Homo sapiens: one gene and its partners. The protein of the gene in region 3 purifies or fractionates together with the protein of the main gene of each other region. This does not show direct contact. Each region holds a gene or a part of one and is shown on either strand. Other genes may lie near its edges.

What was found.
Region 1: the proteins of FOXP2 (region 3) and VSIG8 purify together in Homo sapiens (affinity purification with mass spectrometry; 2 studies listed by BioGRID and IntAct, with this or other methods). This does not show direct contact.
Region 2: the proteins of FOXP2 (region 3) and DSG4 purify together in Homo sapiens (affinity purification with mass spectrometry; 2 studies listed by BioGRID and IntAct, with this or other methods). This does not show direct contact.

Annotation. Positions count from the first base shown.
Region 1 is NC_000001.11:159,856,616-159,859,696, forward strand, and holds part of VSIG8 (V-set and immunoglobulin domain-containing protein 8 precursor), read right to left. Parts: intron 2,298-3,081; coding exon 2,119-2,297; intron 1,677-2,118; coding exon 1,475-1,676; intron 1,352-1,474; coding exon 1,130-1,351; intron 29-1,129; coding exon 1-28.
Region 2 is NC_000018.10:31,375,183-31,378,942, forward strand, and holds the start of DSG4 (desmoglein-4 isoform 2 preproprotein), read left to right. Parts: upstream 1-1,594; 5' UTR 1,595-1,729; coding exon 1,730-1,777; intron 1,778-3,760.
Region 3 is NC_000007.14:114,421,170-114,424,829, reverse strand, and holds part of FOXP2 (forkhead box protein P2), read right to left. Parts: intron 1-3,660. UniProt on the Homo sapiens protein: Transcriptional repressor that may play a role in the specification and differentiation of lung epithelium. May also play a role in developing neural, gastrointestinal and cardiovascular tissues.

The DNA of each region.
Region 1 (3,081 bases), on a different chromosome or scaffold from region 3:
TTCAACACCAGGTCCCCATTGTTCAGGCCTGAAAGTGAAGTGGAGAGAGGCCTGGTCTCTGAGAGCTCCCACCCCAACCTCAGTCCCTGTGGGGTGGGGGATGGGACACCCACTCTAGAAGAAGGGAAGGCTTATGCATGTGTGTACACCCACACCCACACACACACACACACACTCCACTCTCCAGGTGAGTCACCTTCCCCCTGCTGTGAAAGAGATGCAAGAAAGGACCTCTCTCCCAGCAGCAAGACAGGGACACCATTAATTCACTCTGACCTTAGGGAAATATGTACGCTCTCTGAGCCTTGGTCTCCTCCTTTGTACAGTGAGGACAGGAGAAGCCAGGGGAAGAGGAACTCTAAGGTCCCTCCTAGCTCTATTATTCTTTGTTTGACTGAATATTTTCAGCTTCTCTATGTACTAGGAGCTTTACACACCTCCCCCATTTAATCCTTGCATGCCCATGAAAGGTATATGTTAGTATTCCCTTTCCATATATGAAGAAATTAAGGCACAGGGAGGGTAAGCCACTTGCCTTAAACTTGGAGCCAGTCAGTGTCCCAGCCAGGATTCAAGCCCAGCTCTGTCTGAGACCAGGCTCCCTCCAAATTCGCCATAGTACTTTTGACTGACTCTCCACATTTGCCTTATCATCTGCTCTCAATAGCAGCTGCTGGGCCAGGCACGGTGGCTCACGCCTGTAATCCTAGCGCTTTGGGAGGCCAAGGCGGGCGGATCGCCTGAGGTCAGGAGTTTGAGACCAGCCTGGCTAACATGGTAAAACCCCGTTTCTACTAAAAATACAAAAAATTAGCCAGGTGCGGTGGTGCATGCCTGTAATCCCAGCTACTCGGGAGGCAGAGGCAGGAGAATCGCTTGAACCCGGGAGGCAGAGGTTGCAGTGAGCCGAGATCATGCCATTGCCCTCCAGCTTGGGCAACAAGAGCGAAACTCTGTCTCAAAAAAAAAAAAAAAAATAGCAGCTGCTGGGGCAGGCCCAGAGGGAGGGTCTCCCACAGGGATTCCAGGTTTGATTTGATGGCACTGATAACCCAAGGAAACCCCAACAGGTCCCAGAGTCCCTGATCTTCCACTCACCCCCGACTGCCCTCATCCAGGGCCCTCTCACCTTGGTTTATGGAGCTGTGGAAGGACTCCTGGTAGGACAGCTCTGAGTGGTAGCTGTGCTGGGAGGTGTAAGACCCAGCTCGATAGGGGTAATGGTGCCCACTGATCTTGGCCCACTTGTAGGAGAGGGGCTGGGAGCCCCCACTGGCATAGCACTTCAGCACCACATCGTTGCCATATGTCATGTGGCCCTCTGTCCAGCACATGGGCACTGCAGGTCGTGCTGCAAGGAGGCAGACAATTGTAAGCCAGGGCCCAGCCAAGAGACAGAGCCAGGCTCAAAGTGGCCAAGCTGCCCTTGGCTCTTAAGCCAGGGGGAGAGGAGCTTAGAGGAGTCTGGCCATACCTTGGACAGTGACAATGACCTTCCGGGTGGCCATGGTGGTCTTCTTCACCCGGCACTCATAAGTGGCTGTATCAGATACCTGCAGGTTCATGAGGTTGATGGAGGCATCGTACTGGCTTGGGTCTGAGGCTGCAAAGCGGACCCTCTGCTGCAGATGGGGAAGGCTGCCATGGTTGATCCTCTTGTCCTGGTAACTAAGGAACTGTGAAGAGGAGAGGAAAACAGGTGGTGAAACAGGCAGAGCCAAGAAGGGCCATGTGGATTGGCTGCTTTGGGCAATTCACTGAACTTCTCTGAGACTCTTTTCTCAGCTGAAAAAATGAGAATAATGATGCCTGAGCCACTGACCTCTTACAGAACTGGTGAGATCAGGTGAGATCAAGCACTTGGAAAGATATATGGTCAGACTGGGAACTTTTTGAAGGCAAAGACTACAACTTATCTTCCTTTTAGAATGGGATGGGAGGAGGTAGACTGACTGGCTAGCTTAATTCACAATTGCAGAGCTCTCATCCCCATTGCCTCATTCCCTGAAAGGCCTTGGGGGAGGTTCAAGGTCAGTCTTCTCCCTTTGGGATGTTGGCTGTCCAACAGGTAGACATCATGAAGCCTAGAGGAAGGAGACCCCTGTGCCCAGCACTCACCACGTTCTCTCGGTGGTGGGCGGGGTCTGAGTTGACCTGCATCCACTCGATGTCCAGCCCATTGGGACCATAGTCCTCAGGGTCCAGGACGTAGGGGCAGCCCAGCCTCACATTATCACCTTCTGCCAGGTACAGGACCTCCTGTCCATCCCCGTTGATCCGCACAGCAGACAGCAGTGCTAGGGGGAGGGCAGAGAAGATGGGGTGGTAGGAGCAGAAGCAGGGCTTCAGGAGGAGTCAGTGTCAGCCCTTCCCTTCATATTCTCTGTCCACGGCACCCAGAGGTCAGCAGTGCTTTCATAAAAAGGAGGGCTGCTCGTAGTGGGTGTGTATGTGTGTGTGCATGAATTGTCACAGGCATATAACAGCTATACATATAGCTGTTATATATGTAGCTGTTATGTATGCTTGTATGTATATATGATTATGTGTATGCATGTATGAATATGTACACGTATGTACATTGTATGCTTATGAGTATTTGTGGCTGCTTATGTGTACTGTGAGGATATTCATGTACATGACCACGTAGCGTGTCTGCTTATATATTTATATGATAGTGTGGATGTGTTTGTGTGTGTGAAGGCATGTGGTACACACAGAGTTGTTAAATGCTCTGATAGAAGAGCCTGGCTGATTAAATGTCACCTATGTGGGCTCTGTCTGGGCTGAGTGAAGTCCTCCTGTCCAGAGGCAGCGGGGTGGTTACAATGGCTTCTGGGACTCCTCTCCAGCCTGAGAAGCCAAAGACTAAGTGTGTCTATGTGTGTCTGTGTATGACAGTGTGAGTCTGTGGCTGTATGCCTCTGTGTGGTTTTGTATAGTGATGTGTGACCATGTGAGCTATGTAAGTGCTTAAAAGTGACAGTGTGTGCTTGTGCATGACAGTGGACAGCTGTGACCAGGAGCCTGGCTGTGTTCGTGTGTGATAGTGAGTGATGGTGTGTGCCTGGGACTATGGCC
Region 2 (3,760 bases), on a different chromosome or scaffold from region 3:
AGGTAGTTCCTCCTTAGTTACTGAAGAATCTTTTAAATATGTTCATAATTATAATCTGGATTCAAATTCTGGATACCATTGAAATCAGGAGTTTCAAATGGAGAAAGCTAGAGGTACCCACATAAATGATCTAGTACCTATTTCTATTGCTTCCTGTTTCTTTTCTTTAAAACTCATCCTATAAATAGCATTCAAGTAGATAGAAAATCTTATATTTAGAAGAAAATATAAGAAAAATCTTATATGTAGAAGAAATCATCTATAGTGTAAACAAAAGATAGAGACCTTTGTGAAATATCTCCTTCAAACACAACAATAGAGAAGAATGTTGTTTTTCCCTTGTAAAAAGCAATGTCACTTAAAGACCTGGAGTTGTTTCATTAATTCTCTTAGGCAAATTAAATTATCTAATTCAACATGACATGAAATAATGCAAAAGTAAATTACTTTATCTGGCTTCCAAAAATACTAAAACTACTTTTCTCAAGAAACTAAGCAATACTTAGAATACATTCTATTACCAGGGTCAACCTTGTTTCTGAATTACAGTGATGGGATAGTGAAGACAGGAGGCAGTCTCCCTTTGAAATTCTCCAACCAACATGTATTATCTATCAATCAGAGAACAGTTAACTGCATTTTCTTTTAAGTTTATTGATGTTGCTGCCAGCCTGCAATGTTTGCATCAGGACACTCTATACCCTGTTTCAAACCCATACTAACAAAGGAAAAGGGAGACACGAAAAAGGGAAATAATATTCAAAAATATCCAGATCCCACTCTGGGCTTTTTTTCATTAAATTCTCACGTTTCCAACTTCAGTTTCTCCTTAATAAATATTTGTGGTGGTGTAAAATGTGTTCCTCACCCACATTATGTACTTTTTATCAGTGGTAATACTATGAGAAGTGAGAATGTTGTATTGTAGTTACTTTAAAATGATTTTGTAAATATCATATTGTAGAGGTTTGACTGAATAATCAAGAAAGAAAATGCCAAAGTATGGAAACAAACATACTGGTACTAGTTAAATCAGAGTTCCTTCATCTTAACTTTGTTATTTCAGAAAATCTTTAAAATTGAGAGTGCGGTTCAACCACAAGACATTTTAAAGAGAGAAGCAGGACTCAACTGAATTGAAATGAGCGTCATTATTCTATCTTTCTTCCTATACCATACTTGAGTCCTGATGACTTTCAACAATGGCCTCTGCTAAAAGTATCATTCCTTGAAGTGGGTTCTGCAGTGGACATGTGTGTGTATGTGTTGTCAGTATATGTAATTTTGCTTTTACAATGTTGGCAGTAAGAAGAAGCCTTCTAATTTTATTCAGCATGATGATAGGCCCTAGCATTTTAATTATTTTTTATGTTGTGAGTAATTTATTATTCACTGGCTATCTTCCCTGTAAATCTTGTCCTCGCTCTGTAAGGTTTTTCTTTGGTGTCCAACAAAGGGTTTCATTGCAATAAGAATCAAGGTGTGTCTAAATTCTTACCCAGAGCCCAAACAATGCCAGTCTTCCAGACCAGCCTGGGAGTTTGGGGTGGGGAAACAGTCATTATAGAATATCTTCATCTCTCTGCCCAGAGATCACCACAGTTATCACCCATGCCCTCCTAAAAGGGTGTCTCAAAGCATATCTTTCTGTAGAGCAGAATTCGGAACTGAGAAGACGAGGGCTCAAATTGAATCTCACAGGATTTGCGTGCAAGAGAAACCCAAAGGAATGGATTGGCTCTTCTTCAGAAACATTTGCCTTTTGATCATTCTAATGGTAAGTAGAATTTAAAGAGGTGGGAAGGAAATGCAGCCTCAAGGTCTTGTCTCTGTCAACTGTCGGGCTTTCTACATGGGATTTATTCCATTTTTAATCTCCTTCCTGCAAAGAGAGTTCTAGAAGTCCAGCCTCTGTTAATTTCAAACAACTCTCTCCGCCTTGAGGAACAAAATGCCATAGAGAAGCGGGGTGAGAATCTGGCTGAATTAAATTTATATGCCCTCAGAGACATAATCTACTTCACTTTGAGTGTTAGGACTATTCTAAAATTTTAAATTGGAAATAAAATTCATATTCTATGATCATATAAATAAATCAGATAGATTGCTGTGAAAACTGCCAGTGCAAATGGGTTCTAAATTTGAAGGGAAGTTAATCAAACCCATTTCTTTTCAATAGTTATTTCCCTATGAGTTTCTTTCAAAGTGGAGGAATGATAGCCATGTTGAAATTACATTGCAACTAATGATGACATACTAAAGTCATGAGAACTTTTTCCAGTCAGATATTGCTAAAGAAAAATGAAGCCCAGCCATCAAGACAAAACTTTTCTGGAATTATGAATGCATTCCTACAGACCAGCAAAGAAATATTTAAATGACTTATTTCTTTACAGTAAACATGGCATCTTGGATATTATATTTCTTTCCTCTAACCTTTGGGTGCCCAAGGTGTGACATGATTTCCAGACAGGCAGCATGCATAGCAAATATCCTACCCTAGAAAGAGATAATTCCAACTCCAAAGAAGAACAAAGTTCCAGTTGGCCAATCAACAAACTATTGCCAATTCTGGGAGGGTAAGAGGACAGGATTATTAGGAACTGTACAAATTTTTCAAAGTAAATTAAGACAAATGCATTATAGTTGGCCACACTTCAATCTCCCAGGAGTATCCAGGTTAGCGCTACAACCTAAGCTTAGAAAGTGATTCCCATCCTATTCTTAGGCAAGTGGCAATTATACCAGACTCCTCTGAACATCAGTTGTAAGAGACAGAGAGTAGCTAGGGCTGGGAGAGATGGGAGCACGTCATTGTCCAAGAGGCACAGTGAGAGCTACTCTTCTGGAATTCACATTTCTAAACTTCAAGAGCAGTGCGGGAGCCGAACACTGCCAAAGGGCACACAACCCCAAGCTCAAAAGGGAACGTGACAACAGTGGTAGAATATTGCATCCTCTGAGTTTAGGAGACAGATTATTAAACAATACCATTTTTGAAAAATATTTTTAAACTTAAAAACATAAGACGAAGGGCAATATTCTGTTACAATGATCATTATTTATTTACTAAATAAAATAAATGTTACTAAAAGAAGAGGCAAGAATCGGACTTGGTCTTCAATTGAAATAGTAAGTTATGAGGATATACCTCTTGTTACTCTTCTACCGAGTATATTCATGCTTTGACTCAGATAAACTTTTGGTTTTCTGTAAGGAAAATTGTATGTGTCAAGATTTTAGAGGCCACTTCTGAGCACTAAATCTTGCCTCCCATTGCCTTCTGCACAGGCATGATTTATGATAATATTATTTAATTGAAGAGTTGATTCTTCTCCTTGATCTTGAAAGAGTATTATACTTCAGACTCTCAGGATCTTTTTTTGGTAGTATTTATTTATTTTCCTTGGTAATACTAGCGTTTTTAATACTTAATTCCTCCTACTCCTCATTGATATTGAAGTCTTTGTGTTTGACATTTCACGGTAATTGTGAAAAAGTTCTTTAAGTATTTTTTTTCTTTATGCTTGTCTAAAAGATCCCTTACCATATCAATTAATAGTGTCTGGAATTGGGAGGTAGAGACTTCTGGCATATTTCAAAATTGAAACAAATACAAGAATTGTTTAAGGAGAATCAATGAGATGTTATAGATATTATAGGAAAGTAGACATGCCTACTTCTCTTTAATTTCCTGAACTTGAACTCTGCCCCTTCTTCATTAACTAAATCAAAGACTCTCTGGGGCATCATTGCAGCT
Region 3 (3,660 bases):
TTTGGATAATAAAAAAACAACAGAAAACATGAGCAGAAAGGAAATAATTGCTGTAACTATAGTAAACAATTTTTGAGCGAAATGTGTTTATAAACAAATAGGTTTTGCTAAACATCTTATTGAACATTAACAAAGAAAAAATCATATAAATTAAAACTGATACATAGTGATGGATTTTATAAGAAAAAAACAAAGCTAATACTCTTTTCTGAGATTAGGCAGCTAATAAGTATTCAAATTAGGCATAAATTTTACATGCACAATGTTTAAAATATTCAGAGAAAAGGTCTGATTGCCTTTACTAGTTATATGAAAATTATAATTTCAATCCTCTCCAACTGTAGAAACAGATAGGCATAACTTTTACATATTGCATTTAAATTTTACTTTTGAGAACATGTCTGGAATATGTGTATATATGTGTATGTTTTTATTTCATCACCTAAGTTATTTGAAATATTTATTGTTTCTGGATGGAGTTAGCAACACAAGGAATAAAAATAAAACACTATATTTTCCAGTGTAGCAGACAGGTGCAGCATTTACTACTAACCTTTGTGTAGTAAATCTCAGGACCAATTGGATGAATTAAAGAATTCTACATGTATTACTGTGTCATAATCAAGGCCATCAAATAATTAAGAATAATCAACAAGCAAAGAGGCATGTGTCTAAATCTTTATTACAATTACGAAGAAAGACCTAAATAACTTATAATTCCTTTTAACTAAAGGATTTTATTCTTAGCCCTTGTGGAGTTTTTAACTTTATAAAACCCTACAGTATAAACTGTTATTTACATTTTAAGTTCAATCATCTAAGAGTTAGTAAAATAATGCTTAAGAAAACTATAACAGTGATAGTACTTTTTGCTCTACAAAAGAGGAGTATCTGATACAACACTTATATGAAAAAAGAAGGGTGATTGTGTAATTAGATGATTATACTGTACATTTCACTTAAAAAAGCTTGGAGTATGTTCACTATAAAGGAGGAATTTTTCAAGGACAATGCAGATTATTTCTAGCATTTACTAAGTTTCTCTTGGTAACACTTCCACTTATTTCCCAATATAGGAAATATTTCCAGCACAATGTGAAGTGCTGTTTACCTTTTAAGTATATTTTAAATAATAATAAATTCAGCATATTCTTTCAGAGTGGATGTGCTTATGATCCGAAACATACCAAGCTAAATTATTCATTCTTATCAATCCCACCACAAACATTTTACAAAAATCAGTGAAAATAAATTCCAGATCATTAAAGGGAAAGATGAATCTGGGAGTCCCTGTTTTAATGTTTGTCTGAACTGTAAGTTAAACCCTTAAGTCTTTCATCGTACACAACTTTTCAGCCACATCAGAAAATAACTCTTCAGATCTTACACTCAAACGATACAGTTAGACTTTTCTCCCCTGCATTAAGTTTTCCTTCCTTTCCTTTTTCTTTCTTCTTTTTTAAGCAAGTCACTGTACAGATACTTATTCTCTACACCACTTCCCTTTTGAAACATTAAACTGACACTGGAACTGACTGCACAAGATTGCATTTTCTCTTCCTAAACAACTTGAATTGAAAGGTTACTTAGTGTAACAATATTTACTTGCAGAATTGTGTTGTTACCAAGGGTATAATGGATGGTGGCTATGCAGGTTTACGCAAGAATGAGTGAAGCATGAGGCATTAGCCATGTGTTTGACATGTTTCAAATTGCTATAATCCAGCATTAAACACACCCAGCAATTCATGCCATTTCTTGCAGCCATAATCTTGAATAAAGCGTGCACAACCACTTATTATATAAATTAGTATATGACTCCCTGTTATAGTCACAACAGTGCTTTTGTGTTTATTTTGCATCAAGATGTAGTCTTTTATTTGTACAAATAGCAGGATATAAAGACATAGCTCAATTAGGCCTCCTTACTTTATGATAGGGTAGTACTGAATGCTAGACTTGTTGGTTTTATTTCTTCCTCGTAGAGTTATATGTTCTATTGGTATAAAACTGTATCATGTGAGATAGTTACATGCCAGAGTGATAACAGAAACCTGCATGTATCCTATTCCGTATTCGCAGCAATGTTTAAAAGTTTGAAACTTGACCTGGACAAGCATAGTTAATTGTGTTATCTCAGCCACCACCAGGGACACTACTGGTCCTTGTTGCTTACTCAACTTTCTCTATGGTCTTCTTTCTCATCTCTTCTCCTTCCCTGTTTCTTATGCTCCCTATCTCTTTTCCACTCCACATTCCCATGTGTATATGTGTGCACATGAATATGTGTATCTATATATGTTTATAAAGATAGATCAATCAATCTGTCTATGTATGTCAGGGATTATAAAGAAGATAAAAATAGCCTCTACTTTGAACCACACTCTGCATTCTACATAAACAGTCTGTCTTATAATCTTAGTGCCTTAATATTAACTCTCATTTTGGTGGAGGAGTCTTACTATTTAATCAAAACAAATGGATGAAAAAAAAATGACTTCCCAGAAAACTAAGAACAAATAACAGTACATATAAAACATTTCTAACAATTCATTTCGTCAACTTTTCTTAAACAAAATGATTACAGTGACCTTGAAAGACACTTTATGTCTAATATCTGATTCATTCCAGTGTCCAATTTATTTAATCAAACATATGCATTAAATCCAAATAGTTTTGAATATGACATTTTAAGAAAAGTAAGGCATCAAATTTAAAACATATATTCTTAAATACCTCCTTAATCTTTGATCAATTATCAATATCAAATATTAAATATTTCTATGCAGATTCACACAAGAAAGAGTTAAATATTAAGAAAACTTAACATATGTAACAAGAAACCTCATACGTTTACCTCAAAATATTAGTTAAGTTCTAATTTTGAAAACTTGACTGTGATTTAAAACTTCTGAAAGAAACTAGCGTTTAAATAATGATAACTCTTGTGCTCTAGTGGAATTAATTCATCATAGGCACCATGCATAGTGCATTTGAGATCCAGCACTGCTTTGCTAAAAGTCTTTAATGCTAAGATTGCCTAATAAATCAAAATGCCAAATATGAAGGATATAGTTGAATGTGTAAGAACAAAAATTGAAACAGCACATGAATATTTTCAATTTTTAAAAACTGAAGCAGGATGTCTTTTAAAACATGATTTGGGGAAGGTTATCTGTTATAGCAAGTGATATTTTTACTATACCAAGTGACATAATTTTAAGTAAATTAAAATTAACTTGTTTATTAAGTATTTGTTACTACTTTTTACTTATTTAAACAAAATGCCTAAAATGCTATACACAAATTAGAAAAAAAAACACTTTAGTAAAAATTCAGACTTTCATTCAAAAAGGTTAATATTTCAAACATGCAAAGTAGAAGGACATTTTAACAAAATATTTTTTAAATGATAATGACTACATTTTAGCAAAGATAATACTGTTAGATCTTCAACAATAACAAAATCTAGGAAACATAAGTAAAGCCAATGAAAAACTTATCTTCCATTTCAATCAGCTATTAATTAACTTAGCAACTAAGTATATTATATTTTGCTCCTGGATAAAAAATAAAATAAGTTTAAAATGGAAACAAAACATAAATATTTAATTATGAAAATATTATAAAATACTAAAATTAAGTATTTAATCCCTATGC